2 separate regions of the Homo sapiens genome follow, and region 2 is linked to region 1. Evidence: fine-mapped expression QTL. A gene starts in region 1. The other region holds a variant in brackets. All regions are shown on one strand. Distances are from middle to middle. Region 1 holds the start of XPO7 (exportin 7). Region 2 overlaps XPO7 (exportin 7).

Region 1 (15,864 bases):
GACTGCCCAGGCAGAAAGCAACGCCGGGATGAGCCCAAAGCAGGCTGCAAGAAGGCCAAACAGGCCCACCGCAGTGGACTCCAGTCTGGGGAGGAAAGCGGGGCAGTGGCCGAGGCCCAGAGGAGGGAGTGAGGAGGGCGGCGTGTGACCCGGGCTGGAGACCTCATTCTCCTTCTGTGCGAAATCCTGAAGGAGAACTTCTCTCCACCCTCCTGAACCTTGCTGCCTCATTCCTTGATAGGTTGGGCCATGAGAGAGAGACAGGTGTGCCCCCCAGTGTTGGTTAGGGGACGAGGACTTCCTGGTTCAAGGAGGCCAGGGAAGGGGAAAGAGGATGGACAGCCGGCTGGGGTCCAGGCCCCCAGAGGCCCCAGCCCAAGCTGAACACCAGCCACATGCACCCCACTGGGGTTGGGAAGGAACCTCTATTGTCATCCTAAACTGTCCCTCCAGCTGCCCCTTCCATTCCCTTCCAAGGTGTCCGGTGAAAAGAAGTCAACATAGAGCAAGAGAGCAAAAGAGGCAAGAGATGAAAGCAGCACATCCCCCACCCCCACCCAGGGCAAACAGCCCTCAGTAAGGAGCACAGTTTGGGACCTGGTTGGGGCCTGGTTCAGGAGACAGCGTCGGGTAGGAAAAGAGCCCTCCCAAAGTTGAGCTCTGGGTCTAACTTGGTGGGTGCACAGTCAGACCTATAAGGGTTTTGAATATGAAACTCCCTCTCCAACCCAGGAATTCTAGCAGCCTCCCAGGCCCCCTGCCCAACCCCAGCCCAGCCTCACTCCTACCTTTCCAAACGTCTGCTGCTGCTGAAGATACAAGAAGCCTTGTTTCACTGCCCCGTCTCCCATCCTCTGACCATCTCGGAGCCCCAGGCTTCAGCTCTCTCCTTCACTCCTGCCCTTGCCTCTCTCTTCTTAGCCGTGTGTTTCCCTTCTCTGAAGTTCATTTCCTCTCTGCCTAGGGTTTTCTATACTATTCTAGTCTGCTCGATGACGACAGGCTGATAGGCCCTGCGGTTTCTTCTGAGTGTGTGTTCTTTTTTTTCTTTTTTTTTTTTTTTTCTGAGTGAGTTTTATACTCAAGCTTCCTGCATTTCCAGTGAGTTAGAGACAATTTCCAAAAAGCTAAATGCCAGCTCTTCAGTGAGCAACAATTCAGGTACAGAAGTTGGCACAGGGAGGCGCCAGCAAAGAGTGGCTGGCCCACTGGAACAGAGACCCAGAAACCAAACTAGACAGTGAAATCAGTAGTGAAGGCCCCCCCCTCCAAGCTGTACGCAAGTTGGAAGGGACAAACCACTAAGTTACAAATAAGGAAACAGGCTTGGAAAGTCTGAGGGATTTATTCAAGGTCACCAAACCAGAACCCAGGTCTCTCAACGCTTAACAGCTGAATGACACACACGGCACTGCACAGAGAGACACATAAGACAGCTCATGTGGGCCTAACCAGATACCAGTTTCACAAACACACACACACAGAGAGAGAGAGAGAGAGAGAGGCAACCGTTTAACTACATGCGAGCACTCCCTGTCTGCCAACAACACACACTCACACCAACCCTGTAAAGATTCTAGAAAGATGATCATCCCCTCTGGAGAAGGGACTGACTCCCCAAGTACATCTCAACTGTTGGATTTTTGCCTTCTTGCAAGCATTCCTGAGCATTAGAAAGATGCTTAGGTTTCATCTGCAAATTATCTTAAGTTTCAATAGCAATCACTTTCATATACATTTTGAAAATGGTTCAGAGTTACCGAAAGTGCTTCGTAGCTCGCAAAGCTTCTAGGCACACACTTTTCATCAGCCACGCCATCCTTTGACAAAGGCAGGGCAGGTATGAACACACTTATTTGCAACTTGCCTGAGGTCACAGAGGTAGTTGGGGGCAGAGGAAGAAGTAGAGACCAGGGCTCCTGATCTTTAATTCAACATTTTGCAGGGCCCCTAAATGGAATCCAGATCCATGCAAAAAGATCCATTGCTGTGGGGAAATCCAAGCTGCTCAGAGAAGTTTAACTTAAAGCCAGATGGTTTAGAGAAGCAATCTGTATGGAGGCACAGTGCAGAAGGGTTGGAAAAAACTGAGACTCAGACCAACACTCTTGGGGTTAATCCCATAACAGGTGCTTATATAAACAGGCCCATTTCCTCTACAACAGGGGTTCAGTTACCGTGGCAAGGAGCGAGCAGCACCGTGCACAGCTTAGGCCTTCTGCTGTACATGCCATGGACTGGACCAAATAAGCTTGAAAAAAATGAATGTCATGAGCTCTGTGAGGACAAGGATGAGTCACTTCAAACTCACTGCCCTCAGCCGTGATGCCTGGGTTTGAAGAGGTTGATCCAAAGCTCAAGGGAGAACCAAGCATACTGTTTTGGGAAAAGCACACCTTGGGAAGTGGTTAGGGGTATGGAAATGGGATGTGACCTAATCTTCCTCTTTAGTCCCTAAGGAGAGTCAACTCTGCCTGGGAGCTGCATGGTCTTTGGTGCAGGGAGTGAGAAGAGGAGGGCTTTATGGCCATCTTAGGGGCTGCCAGAGCAGTGCCTTCCAAACTGTAACATGTAGATCTTGTTCAAAGTAGACTCCAATAAAGTAGGTCTGGAATGAGCCCTGAGATGCTGCCGGTGGTGGGTGGGTCAAAGCACACTGAGTAGCAAGGTGACAGAGGATGTCCCCTGCTAACCTGATCGCCTTCCCTGAAGGCAAAATGGACACATTCCACTCAGAACCACAGGGGGGCACCCAAGTTTACCAGATTACTTGAAAGTTGTTTAAACCCGGAGGCCTGAACCCCAGGCAATCCAGACACTCCCTTGTCATCCCTTGCTTATGGAAGCTGGAGGAGTTCTCCGGTAGCCGTTGACTGCAGAAGATAGGGCAGCAGAGTATATACCAAGAGCAACACCCTTGCAGTCCTTCTAGGCCCCTTCAACTGTCCCTAGCAGGATTTGTGGCGACCCTGATGTAGAAGCACTAACCCCAGTACCTTCTGCCTAGCCATGGGGAAACCCTGTAAACAGGAGCCCAGAGACATTGCTCCAAGACACAGCAGAAGCGCACAGAATGAGAAGCCCTTAGGGTCCACAGGCACCAATGATGTGTAGAAAAAGCACTGTAAAGGAGTTGAGGGTGCCTCTTGGCTTGTCTTTGTTTTTACGGGAAAGGAAAAGGCACTCCAAACCCCACCTGTGGCTCATTCTAAGCCACTGGGATCCTGTCCCTTACAACAGTTTCTCTCAGCAGGAGTCAGGAACCACAGCTCCAAGAAATTTTCATTACTATTCTGCTGCAGTGATTAGCAACCCAATCCTAACATAAGAGGGCTGGGACCTTGTCTTTGGGGCAACAAAGGAAGGAGGAGAGGAGACTGTGTCTGACTCCTTGGGCCGGCTTGGGGATTAGGTAACCCTCAAATGATGTGCAGGTAGGGAAGCTAGCTAAGGGGTAGTTCTGGGCACACAACAGGTAAGTACGTATAGGATAGGCAGAGAACTGATGTGGGCCTGAGACGGGTGAAGGACTGAGCGAAAGAATTAGTGAGCGTGTATTCTGAAGGACCCCATCCCTGCCCCTTCCACCCCCAGTGGTCCCTGACTGTGGGGTGTGGGAGGGGGACAATGCCAGTCTCTTGAGCTTCATTTGTAGCCCCCCACCCTTTCTCCATTAAGTCTATCACTTTTCTCAGTACTAAGGAAAGAGAGAACCCAGTTCTAGAAACCCGCTGAGAGGAAGGGCCTATAACATAACATAACATAACATAACATAACATAACATAACATAACATAACATAACATGTTACCTAACAGTGACATAATATTTAGAATGCTTTATGTCTTCATATGAAACCCACATGCACCCTAGAATGAGACATAAAGAAGTTAATACATTCAACAGTTTTTTAAATTTATTTTTATTTATTTTTTGAGATGGAGTCTTACTCTGTTGTCCAGGCTGTAATGCAGTGGCACGATCTCGGCTCACTGCAACCTCCGTCTCCTGGGTTCCAGCCATTCTCCTGCCTCAGCCTCCTGAGTAGCTGGGATTACAGGCGCACACCACCATGCCTGGCTAATTTTTTGTATTTTTAGTATAGACGGGGTTTCACCATGTTGGCCAGGCTGCTCTCAAACTCCTGACCTCAGGTGATCCACCCCCCTCAGCCTCCCAAAGTGCTGGGATTAAAGGTGTGAGCCACCATGCCCCGCCTCAACAATTATTTACTGAGCATCTACTCTGTGCAGAGGTACTAGGGATACAACATAGACAGAATCCTTGTTTATACTATGTCTGCTTTTAGTTGGAGGGACTGATAATGAAAGAGTAATAATATGTAGTTTTGGACAGTGATCAATGCTGTGATAGTGATAGGCACAGGGGACAACTTTCAAGAGGGTGGTGAGAAAAGGCTCTCTGAGAGGTGACAAGTGAGCTGAAAAGTCCATGAGGAGAGTGAGCCAGCCATTTCACGATCTGAAGGGAAACCAATCCAGGCAGAAGTTACTGCAAGTGCAAAGGCCCTGAGGCAGGAGATCCTGGCTTTGCAGAACTGCAAGGCCAGAATGACCACAGAGCATTGAGCCAGAGGGGGCATGGTAGAGTGAGGTCAGCTCATACGACCTCTTGAGCCACAGCAAAGATTCGAATTCTAAATGCAACATGAGGCCACTTAAGGATTTTAAGTAGGAGTGTAAATTATCTGAATTATGATTTTAAAGGAATGTTCTGGCCAGGCGCAGTGGCTCACACCTGTAATCCCAGCACTTTGGGAGGCAGAGGCGAGTGGATAACCTGAGGTCAGCAGTTCCAGACCAGCTTGGCCAACGTGGTGAAACCCTGTCTCTACTAAAAATCCAAAAATTAGCCAGGTATGGTGGTGGGCGCATGTAATCTCAGCTACTTGGGAGGCTAAGGCAAGAGAATCGCTTGAACCAGGGAGGCGGAGGTTGCAGTGAGCAGAGATGGCGCCATTGCACTCCAGCCTCGGCAACAGAGCAAGACTCTGTCTCAAAAAATAACAAATAAATAAAATAATGTTCTGCAGCGTCCAGCTATATGGAAAATGGGTTATCAAGGGGCAAGACAGGAAGCAGGGAAACTAATTAGGAATCTATTACCAGAGCACAGGAGAAAGGTAATGGTGGCTTGGACCAAGGTGTTAACAGTGGAGATGGATGGAGAAGTGGTCATATTGGGTATATATTAGATATAGATTGAACAGGACTTGCAGGTGACTTGCATGTTGGGGACTGATAAGACTTGAAGAACCAACTCCTGAGTGTTTATTAGGAGCAACTGGATGAATGGTGGTACCATTTACTGAGGAAGGGAAGACACAGGGAGAAACACGGGGAGGTTGGGGTGCGGGGGTGGGGGAAGGGAGGGTGGACAGAAATTTGGGCCTGGCCCACTGTGAAACTGTTACCTCTATTCAGTCCAGTAGGGAATCCAAAGAATTTCCATTGCAATTGTGACTCTGAGAATATTTCATTGCCCGATGCCAGGTTCAGAAAGCCACTGACCCCATCACCCCGCCTCTTTATACGCTCGGAGCTAATGATTGGACGCTGGGAGGTTTTGGGGAAAAACAAAAACCCAACATCTGAAAAGGTCTATGCTCGCTAGAAGTTAACAGTCAAAAGCTCTGCCACTTAAATCTTCTGCCTCTTAAATCTTCTCTGAGTCAGCCTAATTGGCAGAGCCTAATTTGCATACAGAACCCTAGCTGCAAGGAAGTTTGGGTAATGTAGTTTCCAGGTGCCCTACCTCTGCAAACCAGGAAGACCTACTAGGAGGACGGAAGTCGAAATGAATGCTGAGCACCGGTCCACTACATCCACCAAGGGTGTGTAATTCACTACCACCATCATTTGCATATGATGGTAGTCCCCTGTAAATACAAACTTCAAACAATCAGTGCTCTCAGAATCCAGCTATGATCTAACCTGGGGGCCTTAAAAGGAAGCCACAGTGGAATCCAATGGAAAACAGGAACCGGCATTATCTAACAGATAATTCCTAGTGAGGAAGACTGGAATTGGCCTCAGCATGCAGGGGCTGACCTTATCTGACCCAGAGAGATGGCTTTCCCACTCATACCTCCACAAGACCGAGCCTAGGGGTCCTAACCACCAGCCCCGCTGCCTCTTCCAGCATCTGACCCTCTCGGGAGGCAGTCTAGAGTATTGGCAACGAGGACAATGTCTTTGGGAAGCCAGAACTGTGCCTTCGTATGTTTTGATCATCACCACCATTCGGTGGTTATTTCCATGAATGTTTATCAAGGACGAAAGGACAGAAATGAAAAACACGAGATCAACCACTGGGGTTGCTGGTGAAATCCAGACCAGAGAGCGATGGCCCTGGTCCAGAAAGCTAGACAGACACAAGCACAGAATCGGCCCCCGTTGAGTAGAGGGCATTGGAAAGTAAGGAATCTCGCAGGCAGCCTAGGTGGGGTGTGGGGGGTCCCCGTAGCTGCAGGGTGGGGTGGGGGTGGGGGTGGGAGACGTCCAGGGGCGAGTCAAGGGGGAAGACGGTTGGGAAGAGAGGAAGCCACTGGGTGCAGGGGTCCCGGGGCGGCGACAGACCTCGGCCCCCATCCAGGAGCCCTCACCACGCAAACGAGCAGAAGGCAGCGCCAACTCCCACTCCAGCGCCCGCCTGCCGGAGCGAGCGCGGCCCCTTTAAAAACCATGTAAACAAAGCTTTGTTCCCCCAGCTGCCCCTCCTTCGCGCTCCCCCGGCCCGCTCCTTCCTCCCACCCGGCGTCTCCGGGCCGCTGACGTTGCCCGCGCCTTTACGCCGTCCCAGCGGTGCTGCGCATTCTCCAACCACGGCCCGGGCCGCCGGGGCCTGCGCAGCTGAGCGGCGCTACGCCACGAGCGCAGCGCGACGAGTCCCCAGCGCGCAGGCGCAGCGGCGACGGCGTCGGCGGCGGCGGCGGCAGCGGCTCCGGCCGAGGTGCGCGCTGGGGGGGAGGGGGGGCCGGAGAGGAGCATGAATGGAGCAAAATGGCGGATCATGTGCAGGTGAGAGGAGCCGCGGGGGGGAGGGGGCGACCACGAAGAGCGGCGAGTGGAGTCGGGGGTGCACACGGCCCACAGGGCGCCAGCCGGCTCGGGACTCGGCAGGCCCGCGCCGCCGCCACTCGGGGCTCTGGAGCCGCCGCCCGTCCCGGAGCCCCGGGGCCTTTCCCGCCTCCCGGGCCGGGGGCCTTCTCCGTCCCCTCCCACCCGGTCCCACACCTCGCGCGCGGGGCTGCAGGGACAGGAACGGGCATCCCGGCGCGCGCAGCCCACAACGTTCGTCAGTCACTGTCTTCGTCCCCGGGGGAGGCCTCCGTCAAGTCCTCGGGCCCCCCCGCCCGCCCCCCGGTGAAGCGAGGGGGACCCCCTTGCTGACTTTACTGAGGGGGACGCCCCCATGACGCCCGCCATCCCTCAGCAGATAACAAAAAGGAAACCTCGCGCTGATAAACCTCGCTCTCCGGAGTCTTTCCCGCCGCCTTCCTCTCACGCCCCGGAATACGAGAGACCCCCCAGCAACCCCGGCCTCCTTCCCCCTCCCACGGATGCGCCCTTCCCTCCGACACTCCAAATCGTACAGCCCGGAGGGCCGAGCTCCCCGGTCTTCCAAAATGGGTGCTCAGGCCTCGGCCCGCCTCCCCTCGCGTCCCCCTAGCCACAGTGAAGGAGTTGAGCGCCCACACCTCCTATGAAACACGGGGTGGAGGGGGGTGTGTCTGAAATGAGAGATGCAGGGTTGGGTGCAGACGTTGCTCGGGAGGGTCTTGATCCGGCTCAAGAGCTGCTCCTAGCGTGCTGTGGGGCCAGGCCACTCTCCTCAAAGACAGGCACAGGCCCTAGAAAGGGACAGCCCATACCAAACCCAGTAGCAGATGGAGGACTGCAGGGTTTAATTTCTTGCAAACTAGATAAAGTTTTTCCTGTCTGTGCCAGAGATCTGATATTTTTATGACAGTTATTGATGCACATCCATTGTGGGGAACCTTCCAATTTTCTAGGTAACCAAGTGCACAGGTTTTGTGTTGTGGCAAGGAAAGATTAGAGGGCAAGAAGTGTCGCCTTTATATTCTGTGGCATCATTCCTCAAGTAAGAAGAATGATCTCATTCTTAATACGTCTACAAGAATCTGGAGTGGTGTGACTTCTGCCCCTTTCTTTGGAGAGAAGGGACTAAATAAAAGACTTAATTTTCAGGCCAGAGATCAGTAAAGTAGATCTTCGGAGTGTGCGGGACAAGTTGTCAGGACAGAATTATAGCAAGAAACGTAATCACAGGTGGAAAACCACGGGATTTGTGTTTCAAAGCCAGTACCTTGGCTTAATTCAGAAGTGACAGTAAAAGTTGATACAAGGAGATGATAATAATGATAATAATAATAGTATAGCACCTTGCGTTTTATAGCAGTCATTTCTAAGAAGCATGAAATATTTTATGTGATTTTTAAAAATTCTTGGATCTTACAAGACTCAGGCAGGAATTACTTCTGTCATTTAAAGGAACAAAAACCAAAGCACAAGAATGATAATGAGATTTGGTTAAGGTAAGTCTAAGTGTCCCAAAGTCTTTGGAGTTTGGGTCCAGTGCGCTTCCTTACTGGGGGTTGGGGGGATGTCTATGAGCATTCTAGAACAGGCTTTGAATAGATAGCCTTTGTGAACCATGCTTCGGAATGCAGAGGGAGTCAGTACTTTTATGAATATACATCGTGCTATTTGCTGTTTCCCGTAAAGAAATATCTCTTAATGTGATCTCCCACATTTTCGAAGCATAAAGGTTGTCATTCCTGTGAAAGTCAGGATGCATCAAAGCAATCTTCACAGCATTTGTCGCTCCAACGAAGGTCTGTCTTATTTTTAGTAAGATGTTGTTCTCCCACTCACCACTCAAAAATCTACGGAAGTAAGAATTTATTAACTTTTCAAAACAAAGGGGAGCATGTTGATCAGTGTTTTATTGGTACCCTTTATTTACTTTTAAGAGCTGCAATCTGTTGGTCTAAATTAGTGCTTAGTGGTCTTCATATCAACGGGGTAAGTTTGTGAGTGAATTTTTTTCCCTTTAGAGAGAATGGGACATACTGCTTTTCTTTGTCAGACCACTAAGTGTTAATAGTATTGGGCACTCACAGATGTTAAGGTGGTACTTTATTGTGGCAGAAAACCTTCTTATGAAAAAGATACACGCTTCCCTAGGTATAATGAGTAAATAAAGGATTCATTAAAGACAGTCTGCAATGCATTGAGGGGAGGGTGGCGGGGATATTTTTCTTATAACACTAATCAAACGTGAAGTTTATAAAGGTGTCTGCTACAGATTCATGACTGATTATTGGAGAGTTGCATTTGTTGAACTAAATAGTCGAGTCATTATGTTATCTAGTGCTTTTCTGAACCACCAGGGTGAGCAGTTTTTTCATAATTGAGGCTGAGTGTCATATGATTCTCGGGTTCTCTCAGGCTGATGTCTTGGATATCTCTCTTCTAAGGATATGTATTTTATGGACGATTTTAAGTGCTATAAAACTTTAGTAATGGGAAAATTATAATATTTGGATTGCCCTTTAGCTCTGTTGATGTTACAGGCAAGTGTCTGTAGAAGTGTGCCCTTAAGCAGCTCCTCGATGTGATGGGTTTCTTACTCTTGGTCTTAGATAACCTTATCTAACTTTCACCCTGAAGGCAGGGTGGTTACAAAGCTTTGCGTGGGAGAAAAAAATCAAACTTACTTATGTGTGTTTAATTATGTTTAGTTGCCCTTCCTTTCATGTTTTTTTTAACATATCTAAAGCTGGTAAGTTATCGCAAAGAGATGAAGACAACGCTCAGTGAACAGTGGTGATGAAGAAGATTAAGAAGGATCAGATGTTAGTTTTAATAGTGCTAGCTGGTGTTCAGGAGCTCGAGAGGAAAAGGAAGGAAAGAATATGATTTATATATCGAATATGCTATTTAATATGAATTATATTAGTTTTACCATAAATAATGGAAATGAAGACTGATTCCAGGATTTTGCTGGAATTACTACGTTGTTGTGTTGGGTCTTATTATTTACTGGGCTTTGCATTATGACTGTACTAGGAGAATGTACTATTTGCAAAGTAGTCATAGTTTGTTTTAAATTCCAGGCACAGTAATTAAATATTGACTACCAGTGTAACTCCAGGGAGTTGTGAAGAATCATTACAACTTGTCAGGTTAAATTTTAGCAGGGTGCAAAAAGTCGGCCTGATTATAGCAAAAGTGATGGTTGTTTTTTCAGCTTTTAACAATATGCAAGGAAATGATAAGTGCTATGGGTAGTCCATTTTGAAAAGGGAGTTCCGTACAACTTTTGAGAATTTTAAATGGAAAAAACATAACTTTTCTAACTTTTTTCCAGTTCGACTAATACCAGAATGCTTAGTGTGTGCAAGGCCCTTTCTGTGCTGGGCACTTCAGAGGATTCAGAATGAGAAAGACACTGGAGCCAGACTGCTGAAATATCCAATTCTGATGCTCTTTTGGCAGGCTTCAGGAGCACACACGTAGATACAAGAAAGAATACATTGATTTCAAAACATGCTACATCTGTGTTGGGTGATAAGCAATAACTATATCCCATCACCCACTCCCACCCTGATTATACCTCTTTCGTGGGTTTATACAAATAATATGTGTGTATTTTATTTCATTATTTTACTCCTATTCAACACCACACTGGAAATGTCTGTATTTAAAACATATATATCTATATATTTACTTGATTACTCTGACTTTAGTATATTTCCTGAGAAGCCTTGAGAAAAATTAAGGGATGTATATATACGTGTGGGATCATTCAAACACTTAACACAGAAAAAACAAAATACAGTACAGTGATGGAAGAATCTCTAATTTAGATGAAGGTATAGAAAGAAGTATCAGGAAGATCCCTGTTCTATATCTTACAGAGAAATTAGCTTCCATTTGACCCAGAAATTGATGTTCATAACCACCAGCTGTATTTTCTTTTTTCTTGGTTGGGTTTTGAAAGCAATATTGTACCACAGCCTTTCGAGGTGGGAAAGTTGCCAGTTTAAACCAATAAGCTAATGTCTCTCTGTAGGTACAACTACTGAGGCTACTTTGCCCACTTCAGTATGTGCAAGGAAGATAGTGTTTTGAAACTGCATCTTTTTAAAACACCTAACATTATCTCACATTTTCTCAGGGTTAGGAATCTGGGAGTGGCTTAACTAGATGGTTTTGGTTCAGGGTCTCATTTGCAGTCAAACTCTCAGCTGGGGCTCCGGGCTGCAGTCAATCTCAGGGCTTGACTTGAGGATAGAGAATTTTCTTTAGGTTTACACACAGCGGGCCTGGTCAGGCCTCAGTTCCTCACTGGCTGTTGTCTGGAGGCTGCAGTTCTTTACCAATGGGCCTCTCCTAGTGCATCATTTTTAAGGACTTCATTAAATTCTGTAATGATATATGCTGTGTATAAGTGACCCATCTTTGTTATTTTTTTCAAAAACTTTTTATTGAAATATATACCTGCAGACAGGTACAGAAATCATATGTGTTCAGCTTGATGAATTTTCACAAAGTGAATACTCCTTACTAACCAGCACCCAAATCAAGTCAGTATTATCGGTGCCCCAGAAGTCCCCTGATACCATCTCAACAGCTACCTGTAGCCCCCCTCCCCCCCCCACCCCACTAACTACTATCCTGTCATTTTATTTTTAAATCTGCTTTTAGAACTCAAGCTGAGTAACCTGAGAGTTTTAGCTTCAAAGCCAGGGGGAGAAGCAGTACAGAGCAGTGATTATACAGCTTTGGGGGGATTTATTTCATAATATGATGGAAGCTATGTTACTGCTCTCTGGTGGGGGTGGGGAGAGTGTGCCTACACAAAATTTTACCCACAATTTTAGGCCATTCATGAACCTTGATAACTAGAGTTTAAATATATGTTTCTTTTTAGATGAAAATGCTCACAACATTTTATTGAGAAACTGATTTACAAGTATTTCTCTTTTGACTTATTTGAAAAGCAAGTTCAGGACCACGATAAATGTTCCTGGAGAGTTACATGCAAGCTGAATTTTTAAATATTGAAATAAATTCTTGAGGATGATTAATGGTGACCACTTAAGCATCTACTAATATCCCATTTTTGTTACTGTGCAGACACATAGAAGGAAATACAAGATGTGATATTCTACTTCCAGGGCCTTACATTGAATTGAGCATCACAACAAGCCTGGTCATTGAGTTGTGAATTTGTAGTGAGACTGGTTTTGTCGACATGTCCCTGAATGGGGGGCAGTCACTACCCCGTTATCTTTTCCCCCATTCCAATACATGTCTGGAATACATTCATTCCTAACATTTATAGTGACTCATTACTAGGAAATTCTCAATGGAATGGGATTGGTACCCAGGAGGCATATCAAAATCTTGGGGGAGGGAGAGAGTTGTAAAAAACCTAGATCCTAAGTATTTCTGATATTTGCTTCAATGGCTGTTCACCCCTTCGCACATGTGTGCATGCACACAAGGACACACACACACTCCTACTGCCATAAAATGGGAAGGATGTATTTAAGAGAAGGCAGAATTGGAAACTTCATGCTAGCATTAATTGATATCATTTAATGCTCACCGCAGCAATGTAACATCGGTATAGAGATAATAGTAATAGAATTTTCCTTGAAATAAGCTGATTAAAAGACCTGGTATCCCTGGAAGACTGGAGAACTCGCTGTTGGAAGATTTAGATGATGTTCATGGTGGTGGTTATTGTAAGACTTACTGGAGTGTGACTTGGTTGGTCATAGGGAAAGGGGGATACCAGTATTAACTGAGTGTCTGTTATATGCCAGGCACCATGCTAAGCCTTTTATAGTGTTATGCCATTTAATTGGGAAACTCGTTTGGTCTCTGAGCCTGGATTAAGTGATCTGTGAAGTCCCTTGTACTTCAAGCATTCTGGATGGGATTTCCAGTTGTCATCCTTGTATTCTCTCCCCAATATAGCACCGTGTTCTCAATTCATATGTACATGTTTGTAAAATTCCTTAAAATATTTATGCTCAAACCAACATTTCCATTTTATCTATCTTAAATATATCTTCCTCTTCTTTACGCCTAATTTCTTAAACTCCCAGAGTTTTTTTCTGTAAGATCTAGTCATCTGTAGCACTTCTCACAAATTGAGCTCTCTTATGCCCCAAACAGTAACGAAAGAGGTCTCTTAGTTGGACAATAAGCAGTGAAAGATATTTCTTATGGGACAAGAAATTAACATTATTAGTCAAATGTTGATGCCGGTAGGCTGAGAAATGATTCTCACTTAAAAGCCCCTGGGTTTTAAACCTCTCTTAGAAAAACATTAGTTAGATGAAAAAAAAAATCAAAATATTTTCCTCTGGAAAACAATGTTCCTCTGAAAACAAGCAGATTATTAAAATATCCCTTGTACTACTTCAGGAAATTGTAATCTTATAACTGTAGTGGCCTTTTAGCTTTTAAATATATGAACTTGAGTTGGACACATGCTGATCTCATTGGTACTTTGCATGATAAGAAATTATGATATTTACAATGTGCAGTCTCAGAAAGAACTGAGAGTTTTGCTAGACATTTGCCCTAAAGTTTGAGTCAATTTATGGTTTAAAGGGGTGTATTTAAGGCTAGAAAAGGGAAATGAAGGGTTTTCTTAGGATTTTTTCCAATTCTATTTAAAATTGTTTGCAAAGTTTTGAAAGCATATGTCATGAGTTTGGCAAAAATTATTTCAAAGCTTGTTTTTTTTTTAACCTCATTCACCTCTGCTAACTCCTGAACTTCAGTGCTTTACTTCTGTCTTCCAAAAAGACGTTGTCTAAAATTAGTCATGAAATTTAACTTAACTGTAAGAACTTGAAACATAAAGTTTGCTCTGAAAAAGATCTGGGAAACCTGATGTATATTTCACATATCAATACATCTGTTGATGTATTGATAAAATCTATACATCTCAGTTGAAAAAAAATCTAAATTTTGCCCAATATATAGCCACAAATTATTTAGAATGTAATGTTCGTGTTAGTAGGTGATATTTTTGTCTTCAGCTTGTCATTGACCCATCTAAGGATCCCTGCGAGGTCTTGTCAAAAACTAGCCTGGGGCATACCCAAGAATTTTAAAGATTAAATAAAACTTACTGGAAAATGTGACCTTGTTTTCCTTAGTCTTAATATTTTGAACTGATAATGTTCCAGAACTGAGCAACTTTCTTCAGGCCTTCATAAAACCAAATTAAATTGTTTTTAGGTGAATTGAACCTGAGCAACAGGGAGTATTTAAGGACAGGCCAGGCAGGGGCACACATGCTTGTAGTCCCAGCTACTGGGGGGGAGGCTAAGCTGGGAGGATCACTTGGGTACAGGAGTTCAAGTCCAGCCTGGGTAACATAGCAAGACCCCAAGTCTTTTAAAAAAAATTAATTAATTAATTTAAATTAAATTCAAATAAAATAAGGACATTATCCCACAGGTGTTACAAATGAAAATTTGTTGTAATGTAAAGGATTATTTACTAGTTCTTGGAATTCTACAGTTAGCCACACTCCATACAGGGAGAGCAGAATGTTGTGAGCAAGAAGTTTTAATTTCACAGAATTCCTAAAACCTGTCCATTCAGAGCTGTTTGGTTTAGGTTACTGTTAATGTACCCTAGAGGTTCCCAAAGGCACATTTCGTGTTAACATTGATAGCATTGATAGGGTGAGACTTAAAAAAAACCAACCTTTTTTTTTTTTTTTTTTTTTCTTAAGATGGAGTTTTGCTCTTGTTGCCCAGGCTGGAGTGCAGTGGCGCAATCTCGGCTCACGGCAACCTCTGCCTCCCGGGTTCAAGCAGTTCTCCTGCCTCAGCCTCCCAAGTAGCTGGGATTACAGGCATGCACCACCACGCCCAGCTAATTTTGTATTTTTAGTAGAGACGGAGTTTCTCCATGTTGGTCCGACTGGTCTTGAGCTCCCGACCTCAGGTGATCCTCCTGTCTCGGCCTCCCAAAGTGCTGGGATTACAGGCGTGAGCCACCGCACCTGGCTGACCCAACTTCTTATCTATTCCTCCCATACCCGTCCCCTCAAATGTAAACAGCACTCACAAAAGTGGATATTTGGTTCATAGAGATTACTGTTGTGTAAATCTGTTGCCAGTGGAATAAAATCTTTCCTTTTTACTAAAATTTTATTCGTACAGTAAACTGCATCCATTTAAAGTGTACAAATTGACAGATACATACACCTGTGACTCCGGGATCAAAATATGGAACATTTCCTCTTTGCAGTCTGTTCCTCCCTCAGCTCTCAGACCCACACAACCCTGTTCTGCTTTCTGTCACTATAAATTAGTTTGCATTTTCTGGAATTTTATATAATGGACTTACTGTATACTCTTGTTTTCTGACTTCTTTCACTCAGCATAGTAACTCTGAGATTGATTCTCATTGTTGCATAGTAGGAGTGCTTGGTTACTTTTCATTGTTGCCAAGTATTCCGTTGTATGAATATATCACATTGGATGTATCCATTCACTCTTTGGGAGACATTCAGGTTGTTCCCAGTTTTTAGTCATTGTGAATAAAGATGCTGTGAATATTCATATACCAGTCTCTGTATGGATGTACATTTTTATTTCTCTTGAGTACCTGGGAGTAGGATGGCTGAGTCTTATTGTGTATGTTTACATTTTTAAAGAAACTGTCAATTTTCCAAAATGACTGTACCTCGAGTTATTTCATAACTTCGCCAACATTTAGTATTGTCATTCTTTTTGCCTTTCTAGTAGGATCTTGTGTTTTTAGTTTGTACTTCTT
Region 2 (15,864 bases), 80 kb after region 1:
CAGAATCCATAATTTTAATATGGAACATTTTCATTATTCAGTTTTTTGTGATTTCTAATTTCCATTGAGATTTCTTCTTTGACACTTGAGTCACTTAGAAAGGTTTAAGAATTTCCACATATATGGGTTTTTATTTTTGATTTTTTTTAGAGACAGAGTCTGACTCTCTTGCCCAGGCTGGAGTACAATGGCATGATCCTAGCTCACTGCAAGCCTTGAACTCCTGGCTCAAGCAGTCCTCCTGCCCCAGCTTCCCACGTGGCTAGGATTATAGGCACGAGACACGATGCCCAGTGAATTTCCACATATATGGAATTTTAAGTTCTTGTTTTCTAGCTCTTAGAATTGTCATTTCTTGATTGTTGCTTTCTTCATCTTTTTACTTCATACATACTGTTCTCTTGACCTGTATAGATCTGTGTCCAAATCAGAAGACACCAGGATGTTACTATTGGTAGGACTTTTTACAGTATTCCTCAGGGCACCAAGGCTGAATGGTAGAACTACCAGCTAGCCAGGGTATTGCCAGAAAAAAATGCCAGGCTTTACCTAGCATTCTAAAGCTCTCCTTTTTCATCTTTAGCCTTTTCTTTTTCCATCTACAAATCAGCAGGGTAGACAGAAAGCAACAACACTTAATGCAACCCTCTCTCCCCTAATTATACTTGTATTTTAGAGTCTGAGATAGGTACCATTCAAAGCTTGGGTTATTGTGGAACATATTACCAACTTTAGGCTAGAGTATCAACCAATATCAAGGATTTAGGGATATCAGTGAATATCAGCCCTTTTTCCCATTATATGGTATTAGTTTCATGTAAAGCAAGTAAAATTAACCAAAAGAACAACCTTGGTAATGGACTACAGCTGTCACCCACTTCTTTGTCATGTCCCATGTAAAGTCTTTTAAGAGACTGACCAAGTCTTAGACTGGAAAACTGAGCTTGTGGTATCAGCTTAGGAGAGAACTGTTTGCTTACAAGCAGACTGTTAACAGAAGTGATGTCGTTTTTGCCAAACGTGTCAAGATCCCCAAATGTACAACCTTCTTGAGCACATTTTGTTGTTGTTGTTGTTCTGTCTCCACGTTTGGAGACAACCCCCAAACTATGATTTTTATAGTAGTTTTATTGCTGTTCATGTCCCAAGTAAAAGTTTTATTGAGAGAGTGAGTATTGGATTTGGAGTCTTGGTATTATGTATGAGTCCTGATCTGGACCCTCCTGCTACCTAGCAACATGACTGGGGGAAGTTTTTTGGCCTCTTTAAGCCTCAGTCTCTTTTTCTGCAAATGGAGAGTACTGATTAAACATAGTCTTATCTAGATGGCCCACCCAAAGAGAGAGGTGCTGTGTAGACTCCCCTTTGTCTTCCTCCTGGCAGGGCCTGCATCTGACTTCCTTTAGGGTATATATGGCTCTTCTACCTCTTCTTCTTTGGGACTTCTGTTTTTCTTTTTTGCTTTTTTCTGGCTTTTTGAGTTGGTTTCTTTGCCGTGTCTCTCTCTCTCTCTCTCTCTCTCTGTCTCTCTCTCCGCCCCCCACCCTCTCTCCCCCTCCCTCCCCTCCTTTCCTCCCTGGGTGGACTCAAAGCTTTTTCACTTTTTACATGTGATGTATTACTTCAATGTCTTAAAACCTTATCAGCCTCTATTTTTGCTACGAACCAGGAACGTATTTTCTTGGCAAAACAAACTTCCAAAGCTAATTTTCTTGGCATAACAAACTTCCAAAGCTAACAAACTTCAAACTTCCAAAACAAACTTCCACTGCTAGAATGAAAATATGCCATTCTAGCATAGAAGATATTGAATCCGAATATTTGAGAAGGAGTATATGTTGAACTGTGAGAGAAAGAATTTGATGATACATGTGTGGAATCCTCATCAGATTGTTACAGTTTTGTCTTTTCTTCTATTTTAACACATTTTTGCCTTCTACTACAGCGAACTCTAGTTGGCCTAGTAAGAGACCTGAGAGGGATCGCTTTCGCTTTCAATGCCAAGACCAGCTTCATGATGCTCTTTGAATGGATGTATCCTAACTCAAACTAGGAGCACACTACAGCCTGCCTTAACTGGAGTGTGATTGGGTGATAGGGTCCAGAGACGGTGTAGGGGGAAGGGAGGGTAGTGAGGCAGAGAAGATGAAGAGTTAGCCAGAAGGCCTGCATGTGTCCTGGAAGCCACCTTATGACAGACATAAGGTTGTCTGAGATTAGAACATGAATGAAGTAGTCTCCCAGTTTCTCTTTTGGATCTCAAATATAAATGCCTGTGGAACCATATACCACTGTAGAACTGTTGGTTTTGCTATATTTAGAGAGATGTTTCAGTCTGCTGAAAAAAATAAAAAGGCCAGGCACGGTGGCTCACGCCTGTAATCCCAGCACTTAGGGAGGCCGAGGTGGGCGGATCACGAGGTCAGGAGATCGAGACCATCCTGGCTAACACGGTGAAACCCCGTCTGTACTAAAAAATACAAAAAATTAGCCAGGCGTGGTGGCGGGCGCTTGTAGTCCCAGATACTTGGGAGGCTAAGGCAGGAGAATGGCATGAACCCAGGAGGCGGAGCTTGCAGTGAGCCGAGATCGCGCCACTGCACTCCAGCCTGGGCGACAGAGCGAGACTCCATCTCAAAAAAAAATAAATAATAATAATAATAATAATAAACAGCTTTTACAAATTAGGAAGTCTAACTTTACTGACTTCATACCCTTGTGAAGATTATTTCAAATCCAGGTGCCTCTTTAATAGTTATGTAAAGGAAATGAGCTGATCCCATATAATACCATAGAAGTGATGAAAGGACAAATAACAGTATGAAATACATCATGCTCTTCAGAAGAAAGGCCCTATGTAAACTAAAATGTATTATGAGATGCCTTTCACAGGTTAAAGAACACAAAATCACTTTAGTATCTTCTGGTTAGAAAGACTCCAAGATTAGCAAGCAAGAGACAGGAACTTAAAGAACTGTAGTTTGACAAGTTTTTGCTTGGCTAGTGCTGAAAAACTATTTTAAATTCTGTACCTTTCTGGAATCAGAAATCTTTCCTTAGCTTCTCATTTACAGATATCCATCCTATATGCCAATTCTCCAACGGGCAATTGAGCTCTGGTACCATGATCCAGCCTGTACTACACCTGTACTCAAGTTGATGGCTGAATTGGTTCATAATAGGTAAGCAGGAGGCAGAGCTTGCAAGGGCACATCTGCCCTGTTATCTGAGAGAATTTGCTGTATCTAGTGCTTTGGGCAGATTGTGGGAAATAATAAGATTCACTACTGCATTTTAAAATTCGAAAAGTTTTTGTGTTTTTGTTTGTGTGAAAGAATAGTATTCCTAACTACACAAAACCATAGTCAACTGCAGGAAATAAGTCACTTTTTTTGGTTTGTTTGTCTTGTTTTTTTTGAGGCGGTGTCTTGCTGTCTCCCAGGCTGGAGTGCAGTGGCACAGTCTCGGCTCACTGCAAGCTCCATCCCCCTGGGTTCACGCCATTCCCCTGCCTCAGCCTCCGGAGTAGCTGGGACTACAGGCACCCGCCACCACACCCGGCCGATTTTTTGTATTTTTAGTAGAGACAGGGTTTCACCATGTTAGCCAGGATGGTCTCGATCTCCTGACCTCGTGATCCGCGTGCCTCGGCCTCCCAAAGTGCTGGGATTACAGGCGTGAGCCACTGCGCCCATCTAATAAGTCACTTTTAAAAAGAGTCTCCAGTGGGGCATGGTGGCTCATGCCTGTAATCCTAGCTTCTTGGGAGGCCGAAGTGGGCAGATTGCGTGAATGCAGTAGTTCTAGATCAGCCTGGGCAACATGGTGAAACCCACCTCTACAAAAAATTAGCTGGGCATGGTGGCACACAACTGTAGTCCCAGCTACTCAGGAGGCTGAGGTAGGAAGATTGCTTTAGCCTGGGAGGCAGAGGTTGCAGTGAGCCAAGATTATGCCATTACACTCCAGCCTGGGTGACAGAGCAAGACCCTGTCTCAAAAAAGTAAAATAAAAAGAATCTCCAGATGTCTACTCTTAGGAGAAGTAAATTTGGCAACCAAGATTCTGATTTCCTGCCCACAGATAAGAAATTAACATCTGGTAATGGTGCCTTGTCCATCACATTTCATGGTTAGAGACATTGAGAAGGATATGATAGATATTAGAATACCCTTTCTTAAGAAAGGTATTTATTAGAGAGGTTGTGGCAGGATCAATAAAAATTTACTTTTAAAAAGTGAGCAAGATTTTCAAAACAATTTAAGGACAGTGAAAAAGAAAAGTCTAGCACCTTAGCTTTCCTAGAATTTCAGGTATGGGCATTGGTCTCTCATGGCGGTCCTGAGAGAATTAGTAAGGTTTTTTTTCTTTATTTTTATTTTATTTATTTATTTAGTTAGTTATGTTTGATCCGGAGTTTCTCTCTTGTCGCCAGGCTGAAGTACAGTGGCGCAGTCTTGGCTCACTGCAACTTAACGCCTCCTGGGTTCAAGCGATTCTCCTGCCTCAGCCTCCCACATAGCTGGGATTACAGACATGCGCCACCACGCCCGGCTAATTTTCTATTTTTAGTAGAGACGGGGTTTCTCCGTGTTGGTCATGCTGGTCTTGAACTCCCGACTTGAGGTGATCCGCCCACTTCAGCCTCCCAGAGTGTTGGGATTGCAGGCGTGAGCCACCAGGCCTAGCAGAATTAATAAGTTTTAAAACAACCTTATGGAGTGGGTAATATTTAAAGAGGCTATAACCTCCCAGGAGACTTATATTCAAGAGTTACTCATTTATAAAATAGATACTTGAGAGCACTTACTCTTTGCCAAACTTTCCTAGCCACTATGCCAGACAAAATCTCTACCCTCTTTGATGTTACAAATGGTGGGGAAGACACACAATAAAAACAAGTATGGAAGATCTTTCCAGTGATTAAGTGCCATGAAACAAAATAAAACAAGGCAGTAAAATAGAGGGGAATTGAAGGACAGGAGGGTCAGGGAAGACCTCTCAGAGAAGGTAATATTAACTAGGATCTAAATGACAAGAAAGATTCTGGTAGCCCTGCAAAGATAAGGAGTCTTCTAAACAGAAAACATCTGCACGAGTCCTGAGATAGGACAGGCTTGCTGGGACTTGTGGCAGGAGCCTGGTTGGTGGGGGGAGGCTGTGGGAGCAGGTCAGACCAGTGAGCAGAGCCAGATCATCTAGTGCCTTCGCACAGCAGTAGTGAGGAGTGGGCATTTATTCTCATTGCTGTGGGAAGCCGCTAGAGTGTTTTCAGCAAAGGATTAAAATGATCTCATTTAAGTTTTTTAAAGGCTACCATGTGAAGAATGGGACTAAAGGCAGGTAAGAGTAGAAGCAGAGAGAATGTAAGGGAAAGGTGGATTTGGGGTTTATTTTAGAGTTAGATGTTGATGGATTCAGTGTGGTGGGGGGGAGGAAGGAGGAAGGACTCCTGGGCTTTTGAGGTCTTACCAACTTGAATCTAATAAAGCTCATCAAAATGTGGAGCAGACAAAAGAGTCAGGAACTTAAAACCAAGATGGTTACAAATGGCCTTCTCTGTCTGGCTTCTTTTGGACCATTCCAAGTCCCTATGCATCTTTTCTTCATATAAAATGGTAACAATGCTTTGGCCCCTCTCCCTCAGTTGCCACTGAAGCCATAAAGGTCCATGCCAACTAATGGCTGAAGGGCTCTGCATTAGTATCAAGAGGCGACGGGTAGAAAGTATACTTTAATCAAGGCCGGGCACGGTGGCTCACGCCTGTAATCCCAGCACTTTGGGAGGCTGAGGCGGGCGGATCACGAGGTCAGGAGATCGAGACCATCCTGGCTAACATGGTGAAATCCCATCTCCACTAAAAATACAAAAAATTAGCTGGGCGTGGTGGCGGGCACCTGTAGTCCCAGCTACTTGGGAGGCTGAAGCAGGAGAATGGTGTGAACCCGAGAGGCAGAGGTTGCAGTGAGCCGAAATTGCGCCACCGCACTCTAGCCTGGGCGACAGAGTAAGACTCCATCTCAAAAAAAAGAAAGTATACTTTAATCAAATAAAATTGAGAATTTTCAAATAGTAATTTTATCTACTGCTGCTTTTTTTTTCTTATAAATGTTTTTAATTTGAGCAGCAGAATCTGAATCTAGCATGTTGGTCTTCAATATAGAAGCTACTTCATGGTTAAATATCTATAACTTGGTTATTCTCATATTAGGATAGGCAATTGCTTACCTTAATGTAAATGCAGGATCACCCAAGGTACTCAGATGAGAGCCTCAAGTACCCCAGTCTTCCAAGAAAACACCTCTGACTTTTTCTCCTCCTGTGCTCTCTGCTCAGGTCCCAGCGACTCCAGTTTGATGTCTCTTCCCCCAATGGCATCTTACTCTTCCGAGAAACCAGCAAGATGATAACAATGTATGGTAAGTGCTTCAGATAATCATGCCTCTAGAAGTTAATTCCAGCTCAGTCACCACACTGTAAGCAGCATGTGGGTCTCTGGCCAGTCCTGGCAGGAGCCAGGACAGCATTCGTATTGTATGCTAATACATGTGCATTAGAGTGCCACCTGTCACCAGGGGCCTACTGGAATTTGTATGCCTTTGGAGTAGGAAGGCTGATCTAAACGAGCGCTTCTAATGTGGTTGAATAAACATATATGACATGTCTACTCAGGCAATCGCATCCTGACACTAGGAGAGGTCCCAAAGGATCAGGTCTATGCTCTGAAGCTCAAGGGCATCTCCATCTGCTTCTCCATGCTGAAGGCTGCTCTCAGTGGGAGTTACGTCAATTTCGGAGTCTTTCGTCTCTATGGAGACGATGCCCTGGACAATGCTCTGCAGACCTTCATCAAGCTGCTCCTCTCTATTCCTCACAGTGATCTCTTGGTAAGCCTTACGCTGCATTGCCACAATCTTGTTCCTCATCACATTCAGCCTTTTTCACCTGAGACCAAGATTGAACACTGCTCTTGAGAAACTATGTAAGCTAGCTCCTTTTGCTCTAACTAAGTCTTCTGTTTTCCCACCTAAAAGGAGCTAAGCTATTTAAGATCGTCTCCCTGCATGCTGGAGTGCATAGTGCCTAAGCTGATTTTCTTCCTCTTCCTCTCCCACAGGATTACCCCAAGCTCAGCCAGTCTTATTATTCACTACTGGAAGTCCTGACCCAGGACCATATGAACTTTATTGCAAGCCTGGAACCTCACGTCATCATGTATATTCTCTCTTCCATTTCTGAAGGACTTACTGCACTTGGTAAGCACCTGAGGTGGGTGGGTGAGTTGGTGGGTTTGTTTTTTACCACTTAACTAAACAGAAAGAGAGAATCTTGCCCCAGTGTCCAAAAAGATCACCACTGCCTTGGGGGTTTGGCCATAACAATAGAGTATATAATGCACAGCACATGCTTATCCAGCACACACTCACTGATTCCCTTCCTAAGTACAAGGCCCTGTGGAAGCACTGAGGATACGGTAATTAACAGCATATAGTCCCTGTCCTTAAGGGGCTTATCTGGTGGGTAGAACAGACACATGAACAAACAACTGCCTGTTTACCATACTTACCACTTAAACATTACAATAGGGGTGAGTACAAAGTGCTACACAAGCCCTCAAGAATACCTAGACTCTTGGTTGTGAGGAAGTCAGGATCAAGGAAGACTGGCTGGAAGACTTGGCATCAAAGCATAAACCTAAAAGCTGGACAGATGTTACCCTGGTTAGCCAGGGAGGGTTCCTAGCAGCAGAGACAGCAAGCACTTGCACCTGTAGGCAAGAAAGAACCAGGAAATCCAGATGGCTGGCACACTAGTCCAGAGGAGTTAGGAATGAAATGAAGCTTTAGAGATAAGCAGGAGCAAATCTGGAGATCATGAAGGGGGCCCGCCTGTAAGCCGTATTAGGCTGTTTGAATTCTGTCCTGAGGGCCGTGGAAGCTGGGGAAAGGTTTCATGCAGCTAGCTCCATAAGTTTTTTCATCCTAGTCCATATGGTTTCTGTCAACCATTTTGTTTCTAGGCTACCTTCCAACAATTTTTTTTTTTTTTTTTTTGAGACGGAGTCGCTCTGTCGCCCAGGCTGGAGTGCAGTGGCGCGATCTCAGCTCACTGCAACCTCTGCCTCCCGGGTTCATGCCATTCTTCTGCCTCAGCCTCCCAAGTAGCTGGGACTATAGGCGCCCGCCACCATGCCTGGCTAATTTTTTTGTATTTTTAGTAGAGACGGAGTTTCACTGTGTTAGCCAGGATAGTCTCAATCTCCTGACCTCATGATCCGCCTGGCTTGGCCTCCCAAAATACTGGGATTACAGGCATGAGCCACCGTGCCTGGCCCAACAATCTTAGTAGGTATATGTGTTCAGAGAATAAAACACATTTTTATATTAGGCTGAGCAAAACATAAGTAGGAGGATTAAGTCAACTGCCAAATAGTGATGATATGTTGCAAATACACTTTTGGATTGTCAACTGTGGTGAATTATCCATGCCTCTGTGCGACTTTGATACACATTTACTTCTATCAGTCTATCAGGGTGCATAGCCGTATCTAGTACAGTCCAATCAAGGTATCAGCCCTTGCTTTGGAAGACTTTTTTATGTCTTATTGAAAATACAGGGACCTGGCCGGGCGTGGTGGCTCATCCCAGCACTTTGGGAGGCTGAGGCGGGCAGATCACAAGGTCAGGAGCTCGAGACCAGCCTGGCCAATATGGCAAAACCCTGTCTCTGTACAAAAATTAGCTCGGCGTGGTGGTGTGTGCCTGTAGTCCCAGCTACTCTGGAGGCTGAGGCAGAAGAATCACTTGAACCCGGGAAGTAGAAGCTGTGGTGAGCCGAGATCGTGCCACTTCTGCACTCCAGCCCGGGCGACAGAACGAGACTCCGTATCAAAAAAAAAAAAAAGAAAGAAAAAGCAAGTAGAGGGACGTTTGCATAAACTATCAGTCCCGTAGGAATCAGAGACTTGTTTACTCTTTTAAGGGTTCAGCCCCTTTGTCCTTTGGCCTTACCTCATCAGAGTTCTGTCCACAGGTTGTGCTGTACTGTTCCCTTTGTAAAGACGCATAGATGAGTCTGCAGCTCCCCCCAGAGATGCTTTGGAGATAAACAGATAATACAGCATACCGTGTTCTAACAAACCATAAACATTCAGGGGCTACGTCATTCTGGGTTTAATTACATCCCACTGGTAACTCAGAGCATAGGCTCATACCCCAGGCTTCTTGGATTCTAATCACAGCTCCTGCAATTACTAGCAGTTGATCCTTAGGCCGATACATAACCTCTCCTAATTCTGGTTTCCTCATTTGTAAAACAGAAAACCTAATTCCTGAGTTCTT[G/A]AGAGGATAAATTAGAGATAACACCTATAAAGTACTTAGCACAACATCTGGCACAAAAGAAGCACTTGCTGAATCAAACTATTTGTTATTTTGTGTGAGGCAGAAGATGTACGTACATCCACAACACATTGAGCCGATAATTTCAGTATTCTTTATTACCACATACTCACTTTCAAACTTAGAAATTGAGCCCTACTGTACAATGAGGTTAAGAGGTTAACAGGAGTCATCTTGAGCAACCGCCTTGGTTGAATTGGCCACGGTACCCTAATGGATCTCACCCAAAGATAGTCCATATTTGTCCAGGCCACCATCAGCAGCTCTGTCCTACCCCTGCCTTTCTTTCTTGCAGACACCATGGTATGCACAGGCTGCTGCTCCTGCCTGGACCACATTGTGACATACCTCTTCAAGCAGCTGTCACGTAGCACCAAGAAGAGGACCACACCCCTGAACCAGGAGAGCGACCGCTTTCTGCACATCATGCAGCAGCATCCAGAGATGATCCAGCAGGTAAGAAAGTGGAGGCTTAGGAGGCAGTGATGGGGTGTCCGACAGAGGAAGGACCTCTGCAAGACAGGGGAGCCCACACACGATTAACATGACATCTCATCAGGTTCCTGCTGCTGAGATGAAGTCCGTGTCTTAAAGTTGCAGTGGATTTTGAGTTTGCCAAGTAATCACTGGATGTAGAAAACGCTCAGGTTCTGGATTATTCTTCTGAGTGTCACAGTGATCCCTATGCCCTGGACCTGTCTCATGATCACTATCCTCTTTCTGTGAAAATTACTTTGCTCACCCACTGCTATAAATAGAGCAGGAGTTAGCAGCATCCAGCTTTCTAAAGGCTTGTGTTCCTGTTTACAAAACAGGAAGAAGAATGCAAGACAGAAGGAAATAACTGGCCACAGAGAGATCAAACCATATGCTTGCCCTTATTTTATTTGTATGTGCCTTGAAGTAACTTACAGAAATACATGCTAGATGAAAATAGATAAGGAAATGGGATCAGTAATTATTGAGATTTTAGCCAGTCTTACCTTTGTCCACACCGTTCTCTAAAGAAGCAGTGAAATAATTCAGGACTCCATTACATTCACAAGATGTCATAAAGCTGTCAACTCCGAGTACCTGGAAGGGATCATGCAAGGTGGTTTTGCTTACTGTAATTTTGTTTACGTGACCCCATCCCATTCCCCACAACTCAGGGTGACCTGGAAAGATCCATTGGTAAGTGAAGTTCAAACCAATTTTAAGAACAAGAAAGGAAATGAATATCTTAGAAGAAAAGGTAACCTTGAAATAGAAGACTCAGATGAAGCTTCACAAACTATTTGTCTGATTTACCCTATACAGAAAAGGCCTTCAGCCTAATATACTCCTGTATTTGGAATCTGTCGTTTTATCTTGGGTAGCAATACATTAGGTCACTGCCTGAAATTCTCCATTCCATTTTCAGATGCTGTCCACGGTGCTGAACATCATCATCTTTGAAGACTGTAGGAACCAGTGGTCTATGTCCCGACCACTACTTGGCTTGATATTGCTTAATGAAAAGGTGAGAGAGCCAGCTCCCTGGTGCCAACCCAGAAGCAGTGGCAACCACGCACTTGGTATCACCAAGCCCTGGGAGAAATGTGTATAGAAACACCCCACGGTGGTGAAACAGGGAAAATGGGTCATTTACTGAGCAAGTCCCATTTGTGCTTTCAGTATCACATAATCATTTAACTGTTAGAAGTCAGCATGTGTGGTAGCTCACAGACACAGGATAAAGGAGTGTTTCCCCTAGGCAGTAAGAGAAACCTTTCAAGGAAATAATGTACCTGGGTATCAGAGGACCTAAGACCTAAGTTCTAGTTCTAGCTCTGCTATAAACAAGTCTTGAGATTCTGGTAAAAGAAAGGTCTGGATAAGATGACCCTTTTAAAGTGCTTTACAATTTAAAAATTCTTGATATTCTTAGTAGGATGAAGCCATATTATCCCACAAGTGCTTGCCTGAATTTCTTTTTTAAGGGTCCAATTTTAGTAGACATTCCATTCCTCCTTAGAGAAGAACATTCTTCAACCCTGCAGATGACGGAGGGCTAATCTGCCTTCCCCTGCTTCTCTAACCTTCTGTTCCACTCCTTGCCCCACAGTATTTTTCTGACCTAAGAAACAGTATTGTGAACAGCCAGCCACCGGAGAAGCAGCAGGCCATGCACCTGTGTTTTGAGAACCTGATGGAAGGCATCGAGCGAAATCTTCTTACGAAAAACAGAGACAGGTGAGTATAAAGCGTCCTGCCTAGAAATCTCAGACAATTGCTATTTTTCAAATCAACGAAACAGGCAGTTGCTTTAAAGTCTTTGACATCTGTGTTTGGAGGCCATCTAAAGCAATGCAATGCAATAGAAAAGTGAGCCATGTTAAACAGGCAAAATTCATTTTAATAATATATTTTATTTAACCCATTGTATCTAAAATATTGTATCAGTGTGTAATCAGTATTTTAAAATTGTGGGTTTTCACATTCTTTTTGTACTACATTTCCAAAATCCTGTGTACTTTACATTTAACAGCATATCTCAGTTCATACGTTTTCATCAGAAATACTTGATCTGTATTTAGATTTCATAAATTTACAGTTGACAAAGTAGATTCCTGTAATACCCAGATTGTTTCAAACACACCTAGGGACTTTCCAGTAACTGCATTGAGTATCTGGGCTTTGCAATTAACTTTTAAATTTTATTTAATTTTAATTAATTTAAAACAAGGCATTTTAATTTAAAATTAAGATGCAGTTGGGGAGCTGAATGTTAAATTGTATTTAATTTGGATTCATGTTCTCAGTCACACTGGCCATAATTCAGGGGCACGGTAGCCATATGTGGTTAGCAGCCGCCCTATTGGACAGCATAGCACTGCACCACCTGGTCTTGCTGCATTAAGAAATGAGATGGCTTCATTGGCTTACTGCCCTCACGTGTGAGGGCAACTTCCTACTTCTGTCAGTGAGATTTCTTTTGTGCTGCCATGAGCCCAAGGTAGCCCTCAGGGCCCCAGATTTGACCAGATCTCTAAGCCAACTTTTCTCTTAGAGTCTTAAGACTGAAATTAACTGATCTTTGAAACAGAACCCATCAATTCATACATTCTACTTCCCATGCTTTAAAAAAAAAAAAAAAAAAGGCAAATACCTTTCCCCCCCACTCTCCTCCCCCAACCCACATGCATCCTCTCTGCAGGTTCACCCAGAACCTGTCAGCATTCCGTCGAGAAGTCAACGACTCAATGAAGAATTCCACTTATGGCGTGAATAGCAATGACATGATGAGCTGACACCTCCTTGGACTCTACCTGTACAGAGCAGCGTCCCTTTGGTTTGGCCCAGAGGGGCGAACAATTGCAAGGGAGAGGGCCTGGCTGATCCTGGCTCTTTTCTCCAGGGGTGTGGGGAAAATGGCAAAGGTCAACTAGCTGCTTCCCCAGGGAATAGGGGTGTGAGTACACTCACTAGGGGGCAGGGCGCTGCTGGTTCCTGGGGGACTGGGTGGGAAGGGTGGTGGGAGGAGATAAGAGATACAAACTGAGACTCCAGCCTCTCCTCCTGGGGCCACCCAAGTGGGGAGAACCCCTAGTGTCCTGCCACAACCTGCCTTGTATAAACATGTACATTTTTTCATAACATTTTGAACAAGGTTTATATTGACTCAAGTTTAAAAACAAAAAGTGTGACTGAAAAATTTTTACAGAGTCTAGTGCACCAATGCTGATGTGAGGGGTTGTGTATGCGAGTGAAGAAAATGTGTATTCTGGTGGCCTGAAGCTTTACTGGACAAGGATGTGTGAGAGTGCAGAGATATATTTAGTGACACAGTAGAGAGGCAAAAAAAAAGCTAAAATTCCAAATGTATATTTTTTCGTATTGCCCTGTCCTCACCCAGAAATGATCAATTCCTGTTACTGTATTAACCCTTGTTATTAGGAACTCTAAGCCATGCCAGAACACCGTCCCTCCCCTTGGACCGTGTAGATTCTGCCCTGGGTCCCTAGCCCCTTGCAGTGATAAATAACTCCAGCTAAAAGTGTTTGGTGTTCTTATCTCCACCCTCTTTCCTACTTTGCTTACCCTCATCCTCAGACAGATGCCTCTTGCTTTTAAAAGTTGGATTTAACGACGTGTTGTAGGGTTCTTGGTCTGTGTGAAGGCAGAGACCAGAGAGAAGGAAGTGAGCCCACTGCTCTCCTGGGAGCAATGTGGGTGAGTCCACCAGAGGCCCTGCTGTGTGTGGCCAATAAATTTTAGTCTTCCCCAGCCCTCGAGGCAGTGTGTGTGGATGTATGCGTGTGGATATTTATATATGTACCCTGCACTCATGAATGTATGAACTGGAGGAAGTTACTACAGTGGAAGGGTTCTTAATAACAAGGTCTACCTAGCATGAAGTATTTAACATTCTCCCATCCCTTAAAAAATATACATTTTTATAAAATGAAAACCATAATAAATGTTTTGAATATTAAAAAAAATAATAACCTACAGAGGAAAATTAATGGAGACAGCTATTTGCCTTGTACTTTTTCCACAATTGTTGCTGCTAGTTGTACACATCTCTAGTTCAGCTCTTGCCCACGGGACACTCATCAATTAGGTTTTATTTTTATTTCTTTCCTCTACCCCCAGAAACAAGCCTGTTAATTTTTTTTCCTTCTCCTCTGGCGACTGTGTGATGAATCCTTTCTTGCGTGATCAGGTTGCGGATAGACTTGTAAGGGTGTTTGCTGCATACAGTGTAAGCATTGTGACCGCCAATAAACTTCAATGGTTTCTACTGACCTGGCTTCAGCAATCATGTCCAGTGTGCGTCCAAGGACATGTCTCACTCAAAACACATGAAGCTGTGTGAAACATTCTTTAAAAGCCCGTGAATGACAGGGGCCCCTTCACCTGATCAAATTGACTTGTTTCTCATTGCACAGAGTCTGACTCAGTTTCTTTCAAAAGTATAATATGATTGATATATCTCTGTCAACAAAACCAGTCACATGCTATTGTCCATAGCTATAAAGCACAAGCCATTCTACCTCTCTGTTAGCTTTCAGATAATAACATGGCTACTGGCAGACAAGTAGCAATTGAAGAAAGCCCAGTGTTTTAATGTTCTGACATCAGCTTCTCTGATGTGGGCTGAGTTTCATTCATTAGACTATGACAAGTTCAGGGGCAAATGTTATCCCCCTGGAATACGTTGCAGACCTCACAGGCCAGATTTATCAAAAGAGGAACACTTGTTAACAGAGACTACTTCTAAGGCCTGCACTGTGTATTCAGAGTACCTGAGTATGAGGAAATTTGATTGCCAGAAACACAGAAAAGTATTAAGATACAGACAGGTATGTGTACCTTAATGCAGATTTCCATCCCATGACTCTTGGGTGCCAGGGTGCCATTCTTGTCTGCATTATGTAGATGTACCACTACCTTTGCAGTTTCAGCCTTCTGGGAACTGCTATAGCTGCCTCAGTCCTAACTTATTTCAAAGGCAAAAAAAATTCTGATGGCTACAAGGCAAATGGAGTTGATTAATCTTAGCTAAATTCCATCTCTAAGCCTAACATATTAAATGGTGAGTTTTCATTAATATGCATATACTTCTGACACATGCCCCAGAGACCTGGAATTCTGATTCTATAGTTAGGTGACACAAAAATAACTTTCTCATGGATACTTAAAGAGAAGTCCCCTTTCCCCCAACTGCTTTGAGATGCTGATTAATCAGCAAAACCCCAGACCTCTCCCTTCCCTGGGCAAGAAACTCACCAAAGATGGTGGTCTCCTCATTACAGCCCTGAGTGTAGTCCAATCACAAGGAGCCATGATTAAAATCTTCCACAGCTTCATCAGACTTAAACAGTGAAGCTGTTCCCTCCTCTGCCATGGTTAAAATCTTCCACAACTTCATCAGACTTTTTAAACAGTGAAGCTGTTCCCTCCTTTGCTGACAATTCAAAGAGGGGGCACCAAATCACCTTTTGGTCAAAAATGGTCAGTTAGCAATTTCATATGATTCAACCTAGTAAATGTAATAGTTGGTTATCTTTAGATTTTGGTTTCCCCAGAAATCATGAGATTTTATTCAGTCAAAACAAAAGTGTATTTGGGAATTTCTAGGCTTATTCCCCAGGCACTGTGTTCATCAAGTCAAGTGTCTTTAGATAGTGTTTCCTGACACAAACTGTGCCTTACATTGAAAACGTTCTTTACTACAGATTATTAAATTGTGTTTGTATGTGTTTTGTTGGCTCAGCCCAAGTAAGGGTTATCTATTCCCACTAATGTGTAAATCAGACAAAGGAAGAAGGGATTTGGCCCAAGATTGCAATTTTAAGTTTTTAAATTTTAAGAAGTAATGACTTTGGGCAGAAGTGTCCATTTTCTAATGACAAGTGACAACATAAGAAATAAGTTTTTCATTCTCTAAAACATTGGCTTTATTAAGGGACTTTTTCCCCTCCCCCCAACTCCCCACTG

Evidence for each region. PIP is the estimated chance that this variant, and not a neighbour inherited with it, causes the effect.
Region 2: its variant is the best candidate, but not a certain one, in a credible set for the expression of XPO7 in whole blood (INTERVAL, PIP 0.78).

The regions. Positions count from the first base shown.
Region 1 is chr8:21,912,751-21,928,614 of GRCh38, forward strand. XPO7 (exportin 7) reads left to right here and starts at 6,912. Exons shown (of 28, transcript NM_015024.5): 1 at 6,912-7,038. The coding sequence starts at 7,021. It overlaps DOK2 (docking protein 2), which reads right to left and starts at 940. Exons shown (of 5, transcript NM_003974.4): 1 at 789-940. The coding sequence starts at 851. RefSeq lists a silencer at 6,829-7,268.
Region 2 is chr8:21,992,418-22,008,281 of GRCh38, forward strand. It overlaps XPO7 (exportin 7), which reads left to right. Exons shown (of 28, transcript NM_015024.5): 20 at 1,946-2,034; 21 at 3,075-3,182; 22 at 6,338-6,420; 23 at 6,674-6,888; 24 at 7,119-7,257; 25 at 9,695-9,855; 26 at 10,802-10,900; 27 at 11,486-11,613; 28 at 12,578-14,168. The coding sequence ends at 12,671. Among named protein-coding and RNA genes, the nearest start is that of NPM2, 24 kb to the right of the region's middle. The variant G/A (reference allele first, on the strand shown) is at 9,343.